Homo sapiens: one gene and its partner. The protein of the gene in region 1 purifies or fractionates together with the protein of each later gene. This does not show direct contact. Each region holds a gene or a part of one and is shown in the gene's direction. Other genes may lie near its edges.

Evidence for each region. The genes of interacting proteins can lie anywhere in the genome.
Region 2: the proteins of TMEM182 (region 1) and CEP78 purify together in Homo sapiens (affinity purification with mass spectrometry; one large-scale study listed by BioGRID and IntAct). This does not show direct contact.

The regions. Positions count from the first base shown.
Region 1 is NC_000002.12:102,760,655-102,764,830, forward strand, and holds the start of TMEM182 (transmembrane protein 182 isoform a precursor), read left to right. Parts: upstream 1-1,376; 5' UTR 1,377-1,563; coding exon 1,564-1,695; intron 1,696-1,932; coding exon 1,933-2,032; intron 2,033-3,674; coding exon 3,675-3,773; intron 3,774-4,176. UniProt on the Homo sapiens protein: Negatively regulates myogenesis and skeletal muscle regeneration via its association with ITGB1. Modulates ITGB1 activation by decreasing ITGB1-LAMB1 interaction and inhibiting ITGB1-mediated intracellular signaling during myogenesis.
Region 2 is NC_000009.12:78,246,075-78,249,574, forward strand, and holds part of CEP78 (centrosomal protein of 78 kDa), read left to right. Parts: intron 1-594; coding exon 595-708; intron 709-2,216; coding exon 2,217-2,281; intron 2,282-2,687; coding exon 2,688-2,799; intron 2,800-3,500. UniProt on the Homo sapiens protein: Centriole wall protein that localizes to mature centrioles and regulates centriole and cilia biogenesis. Involved in centrosome duplication: required for efficient PLK4 centrosomal localization and PLK4-induced overduplication of centrioles.

The DNA.
Region 1 (4,176 bases):
CCCAGGCTGGAGTGCAATGGCACGATCTCGGCTCACTGCAACCTCAACCTCCCGGGTTCAAGCGTTTCTTCTGTCTCAGCCTCCTGAGTAGCTGGGATTACAGGGGCCCGCCACCATGCCCAGCTAATTTTTTGTATTTTTAGTAGACATGGGGTTTCACCATGTTGGCTAGGCTCCTGGTCTCCACCCGCCTCGGCCTCCCAAAGTGCTGGGATTACAGGTGTGAGCCACCGCGCCTGGCCTTATTCATAGCTTTTGAATACCTCTGATTGCATATAGCTACATCCTAACAGGGCCCTTCATCTTTATTGAGAATCTTTTTGTTCTCACAGAATCCATTGTAAGGATCTATCCCATGCCACAAAAAAGAAGGCGTGAAGAAAGCTGGTAGAGTTGAGATGCCCCCTTGGAAGATTAAGTATTCCAGATTATTGTTGAGAATATAAAAACAATAACCAAAGGAACGGTGCAAGATTTTAAATGCACACAAATACTTAGAAAAATACTCTCCTCTGGCATATCAGACAGAAAAACAAAACAAACAAATAAGCTGTAAAGAGTTAAGCCTTGAAGAAAGTGTAGATTCATTGCTATTAGGTGGTCTGTGTGAGTATTAAGTATGATTCATATTTTGAGGAAGTGAGATATTTTAAAATGAAGGAAAAAGAAGTCGATCAGGTTATTTCATCTTAATTCAGGAAATAATACATTTTTGAGACTTTTTTCATCAGTCCACTTTGGGGATGATTATTTGGAATAACTTGTATAAGACTCATGAGGCTGCTGCAGAAAGTGTTGTTTTTATGTCACTAGTGTATGCTGCATAAAAGCTCTTCTTTATACTTTCAACAATTATGTTACCATGAACATTCTTGACCTTTTAAGTATACCTCTGAATGTTTAGATTATAAACGTGAACTGTACTGTGTTATGTTAGACTATTTGACCAAAAACGTATTTTCTACCACAAAAAAAGTCCAAAAGGAATTAAGTTAATTACAACTTCAATTGTGTTCAAGATCGGTCTTTGTGGTTCTTTATATCTGTGATTTATATATCTTCAAAGAGAGTCTTAAGTGTCTTTGGGATTGTAATGGGCATTCTAGACTAAGAGGAGCTTGTTCAGACACAAGATTTGGGGCCAATGCTTTCAATGACTTCATAACCATTCCATCTTCTTTCTACTTCTGTGGATTACCCAACAGCAATAATGATAATCTGAGCCAGTTCCTGATACTTCTCTCTATAGTCAAGAGAAGGTCAGCTATTTTTTGATCCCCATGGGAGAAAGACAGCTCCTCAATCACTATCTTAAAATAGCCAGCAATTCTCAGCTGCTGGGCTGGAGTTCCTCCAGGGGCGAGCAAAGGGAATATGAATCTGCCGGTGGGGCGTGAGCGAGAAGCCACCAAAACATGAGCTAGGACAGCCTTCTCAAGAAGATTCTGCCAACTCAAAAATATTATTCTTTTTTTTTTTTTTTTGCTGTTGTTTCTGAGAAACTAGGTGTCTTACCATTTTAAAATTTCATATTTTATTTAAAAGGAAACCAGTGAATTGAAAATGAGACTAAATATCGCTATCTTCTTTGGAGCTCTCTTTGGTGCTTTGGGGGTGTTACTCTTTTTGGTGGCTTTTGGATCGGATTATTGGCTTCTTGCAACTGAAGTGGGGAGATGTTCAGGTGAAAAGAATGTGAGTCTCTTCTTCAAAATAGTGATGCACATGGTAGTTATGAAGATACCCTTATGTATGCTCTTGAAATCAGAGAATAGTAGTGGAGTGTCTATTTCTTCATGGAAGAGATATGTAGAAAGCTACTGAGCTTCATTATTTGGGATAAAATACATGTCCTTAAAAATTTACTGGCTGTAATGATTTTGATTATATTTCTTGTATTGATGGCAAGTTACTTCATTTTGTTCTGTGCAGATAGAGAACGTCACTTTTCACCATGAAGGGTTCTTCTGGAGGTGTTGGTTTAATGGGATTGTGGAAGAGAATGACTCCAATATTTGGAAGTTCTGGTACAGTAAGTACAATTTAGCTTTATTTTCCCTCTTGTCTGTAAAATAAAAATGAACAGTTTCTTACATAGTATATGTCACTTCTAGCGGACTGGATTGTGAGTTACAAAATCTCAATTAGATGTCTTTAAAAGGTTCATCATGTAGAGATTCCTTTTCAGTAAGTAGACATGGCTATAGGAATAATTATTTTATCTTTTAGCATAAAACAGGAGTCTGAATATTTATGGCAAAACTGAATTATCCATTGTTTCACTGCTCCTGTTTAGAATACACTAACTCTAACAAACAGGACAGGTATTGTCTATAGCATTTTTTCAAGTGTGTGAATACTATGTTGCAAATAAATAAGATTTTTTTGCTATCAGCCCTTGAAATCTCAAATGTAAAAATCCATAAATAGAGATGTATTATTTTATATTCATAACTTCAAAGTTAACAGTATATTTTTTTTAAAAAAATCATGGAACTTAATTACCAGCCATGGCAGATGAAAGCTTATATTATTTGAGCTTTAACCAAGTTTGTTGGCACTATCAAGAAGTGCCTTGCTTTTGATGTTTGTGTTCTCATTGAAACTTTAAAGTTCTTTTTTAAGGTAGCATAACTTTTAAAAACTATAATGCATTTGTTCAACTCTATTCTTTATATTGAATTAATCTTTGAAAATCAATTTATTGAAAATAGCTAGCGCTTATTTCATTGTATTCAACAATGAAAGGGCTGTTTATTAGCCTAAAGCTTATTGAGAATTGAAATTATTAGTCTTCTTATCAAAAATCAAAGTATGGTATTTACATAATAGTCAGGATTATGGAATATTTAATAAAAATAGGAGGTCCCTGAAGACTTAAGCAAGCTGGTGATAAGTTGGCATATATAAGGAACAAAGTAGTGATGAAGCAGCGTTTTGAGGCAAGTACCTGATAGACTATCTTACAGTGGATTTGGGGGCAGGAGAATAAGCATACAACTTGCCAGTGGAAATGGTTTAGACTTTAGTAAAGGGAAGTAAGTCAGACTGTGCAAGAGGAAGATTTTGCCAAAGACTTGGAGAAAGAAAGAATATTTCAATATTTCAGTCCACCTTAAAGTGTACATATAAAAATTTTAAGTTCTCAGACAACATAAAAGTGCCTTCTTGTGATGTTTTCAAATATTAAAAATTTATTTGAATTATTGTATAACTTATCATTTGCATTCTTCCCTAAAATAAAATGGATATAGAAGAATTTTTTTATTAATTTGAACTAATCAAGGTTAAACTTAAGTTTATTAGATTTTTAAAACAATTATTTTTTATTCCCTACTGTGTGCTAGACACTGTTGGGTACTGGAGAGTATGTGAAAAAAGATGAAATGTGGTACCTTAAATCGTAAGGTGATATAAAGGGCATTTGCATTTATTCCATTGAATTATGTCATGTAGCTAGATGTTCTGGATGAATCCACCTTCGTCTCATGTGCATCTTGATATGAGTTTCCTAGAAGGCCTTCCTCCTCACAACAATTCGCTGAATTTGCTGATGGAACCAGTAGTTTTGTTTTGCTTGTGTAACCCTTGTGCTCTGTATTTCTGTTCCATTAAGGATGAGTCATGACTGAGCTTTTCAATAACAAGTGCCATTGTTTTGCTGTTCTTCCTAGCCAATCAGCCACCGTCCAAGAACTGCACACATGCTTACCTGTCTCCGTACCCCTTCATGAGAGGCGAGCACAACTCGACCTCCTATGACTCTGCAGTTAGTAAGTACCCTCTGTCCTCAGCCTACTTCTAAAAGGGTCTTATCTTTCTGAAGGATGCCCAGATCAAAATTGTTGTGAGCAATTAAAAAAATAATTTAAGACCTGTAATTTCAATATTTTTGATATCTGTTAGATTAAAAAATGTTATTTTTAATGTGCCATTTATAATTTTAAAGAACATAACTTTGATCTAAAAGTAAAGTCATTGTAATTTACTAGCTGCCTATAAAAGTATTTTTAAATGTGTTTTCCCATATGAAGATAGTAATATTTATTAAGAAGAACCGCTTCTTAAGGTTTTAACAGACCTAAAACGAGTCCTACAGTTGAGAATATTGTAATATACATCATACTTCTAAAACTTTATGTCATCATTACACATGAGAATATCACAGATAAATAT
Region 2 (3,500 bases), on another chromosome or scaffold:
GTAGAGTTATTTTTCAACTCTGTAATTGTAAAATATGTTGGGTAATTTATTGGTACTAAAGGGAGGGTAATCATGACACATCTATGAAGAGGGTTTCTTTTTTGTATTATGTGTGTGCATATGGTTTTCTATTTTTATTTTTTCAATACCCAAGATTAAAAACTGGCCATGAGTAGTCTTGGGCAGGAGTCTTCCAGGCATGAATAAGTGGGAGTTGTCTGTATGTTAAATCTGTATAGAATTGGCCGGGCGAGGTGGCTCACGCCTGTAATCCCAGCACTTTGGGAGGCCGAGGTGGGCAGATCACAAGGTCAGGAGATCCAGACCATCCTGGCTAACACGGTGAAACCCTGTCTCTACTAAAAATACAAAAAAATTAGCCATGCGTGGTGGCGGGCGCCTGTAGTCCCAGCTACTCAGGTGGCTGAGGCAGGAGAATGGCGTGAACCTGGGAGGCAGAGCTTGCAGTGAGCGGAGATAGTGCCACTGCACTCCAGCCTGGGTGACAGAGTGAGACTCCGTCTCAAAAAAACAAACAAACAAACAAAAAATCTGTATAGAATTAGCAAGTGACCCTTTGTCTTTCATCGAAAGCTCTTGACCTGCAACAGTGCGGCCTCACCAATGAAGGAGCAAAGGCTTTGCTAGAGGCCCTTGAAACCAATACAACTCTGGTCGTTCTGGATATAAGAAAAAATCCACTCATTGGTATGTCGCTACAATATTTTTTATTGACTAACAAATAGCAAAAGAAAAAGAATTTCTCATGTATTGACAGTTTTGAAAACTTAATGTGTTTCCTTCCCTAATCTTACACTTTTGTAATCTTGCACTTTCTTATGTTTTTAGTAGATAATTTACTGATGAAAAGAGTTGTACTTAAATTGCTCTTGGCTGCTACTCTGAATAGGAGTGAACCTAGATAATAAATCTGCTTCCACCAAGTGCATTATTTTCTTCTTGTGGAACTTCTGAATTCTTGGAAATAGTATTTCATTCATTTGTTGATTTGACAAGTAATTTTTGAATACTTCTATCTGCTAGATACTGGTTTAAGCACTAAACATACAGCAGTAAACCAGCTAGACAAATTCTTGGTCTCATAGAGCTTACATTCTAGTTGGGGAGTTATACGTAATGTAATTTAGATAGTAGGAAGTGCAAAAATACCGTAAGGTAAGAAGACAGATGGGGGCAGGTGGGACTATATTAGATAGGTTTTTTAGGGGACAGCTTCACTGAAAAAGGGACATTTGAACAGAGACCTGATTAGGAGGGGAACAAGCCGTGGAAGATGCAGATAAAGTACCTTCCAGGATGAGGAAGCAATGAATATGTAGTTACATAGGTGGCAGGGTGGATGGAGTATTTAAGGAAAAGCAAGAAGGCCAATATGGTTGGGGCACTGAGTGATGAAGAGACTGGTATGCTACAAAGTCAGACAACTAGCCAGGGGCCTGATCTTGTAAGGTTTGAAGGTCACGGTAAGGACTTAGATAATTCTAAATGAGCTGAAAACCATGGGAGGATTTTGAGCTGGTAAGGGTTATATTCCAAGTAGTAATTCAATCAGATGACTTGGTGTGGAGAATACACTTGTAGGGGGCTATAAAAGGGAAAGAGGGAGGCCAGTTAGGAGACTCACACTGGTTCAAGTTAGAGATGGCTATGGCTTCACTTAGGGTGGAAGGTTGGAGGTGGTAAAAAGTGGTTGAAACAAGGTGTAGCTAACAAGACTTGTGGGGTATAAAGGAAATAGTAATTTTTTTAAAAAGTCCTAGGTGATTTTGCATACAACTGGGTGGTACTGTTTATAGAGAAAAGGAGGCTGTGGAGAAGAGCAGCTTTGGGGGCGCATCATGACTTTGATTTGGGTATATTAGGTGCCTTTTAAGCATCTAAGTATCTGGACAGTGTTTAGGCTTTTGATTTCCTATTTAGAGGTATCTAAAGCTACTTTAGTTCCAAAGTGTTTACATTTGATCTTTGCTGCTGCCAAAATAGTAGCCATCAGGGACAATATGTGTGTAGGAATACTTTGTTTTTGAGGAAGAAGTTAGAATACTCAAAGGGGGAAAAGGTATTTAATTACATTATGTGGAATTCATATTCAATTTCATGGGAAAAAGCAATAATTGGTTGGCTTTTGTTTTTAAATGGGAATAGCCACTCATTGGGAAATAATTACTATAATTTCAATTTTTATTTTACTTTAGATCATTCTATGATGAAAGCAGTTATCAAAAAAGTCCTCCAGAATGGAAGGAGTGCCAAATCAGAGGTATATCATGTTTTATTTCTCCAGAAAGAATTCTTATTTAATTGCTTTTCTTCTGGGATCTCACTGTACTGCCCAGCCTGGCCTCAAACTTCTGAGCTCCAGTGATCTTCCCCCTTCCCAGCTTCCTAGGTAGCTAGGACTGTAGGTATATATCGTTGTGCCCAGCTTTTCGTCTGTTTTTAATAAAATGAAACTATTAAGGCACTTTTCTGCCATCTTAAATTTACAGTCAAATCAAATGTCTTTTCTGTTTTTGTAAATACCGTATGATTCTTTAATTTTGGGTCCCAGAACTGCTGATTGCAAACCTTTTATTAACATAGAGTATCTTAACAATTTCCATTTAAGATGTAGCCCTCATAAATGATCTGTAACTGAAATATAGTGTTTATTCTGTCTCTTTTAGTACCAGTGGATAACTTCTCCATCAGTGAAGGAACCATCCAAAACTGCTAAACAGAAAAGGAGAACTATAATTCTAGGAAGTGGTCACAAAGGAAAAGCTACTATTAGAATTGGTAACCTTTTCTGTCTTGGCTTTTTAATGCTACTAGTGTTCTAGTGTGTTAAAATTAAAATCTCTTCTCATTGTATGATATTGACAGTAACAACCAATATTGACTCCGTGCATATTATGAGGTCTGTAATTGTTCTGATAAGATTATGAGAATTTATGGAATGTAGAAATAGTAAATGAATCATTAGGAAAGGGATGCTAGTGCTTCCATTTAAAAAATTACCCTTATTTGTTTTTCATACAATATTCATCATTTTGGATATGTTTTCTGATTCATGATTACTTTTGATACTTTGCAATTGAAATTTGGGATGCACTTTGATGACAGTTTTAGCAGTGCTTTTGTATGATTTTGTTGTTAATGAAGAATTATCCTTTCATACGATAGAAAACAAAATTTCTTCCCAGTTCCATTTTTTTTCCCTTGTTTCCTCCTCCTTCCTTGCAAATTCTTACCCAAAGTTGTTGAATTAGGTAGCACCTTGCTTCTTTCAATGATGAAATAACCTTAAAATATATGTAATCCTTATAAAACAATACTGCAGGTAAGTTTATTACCCAGAGATGGAACATTTTAGACAAACATTCCCTAAATGTTTGCTATTTATGGTTTATTTAATCTGCCAAATAATAGTCTAGAATTTTGAAATTGTCTATAATTTTGTGACCAAGAATAATGAAAAAAGACTTTATAAACTGTTT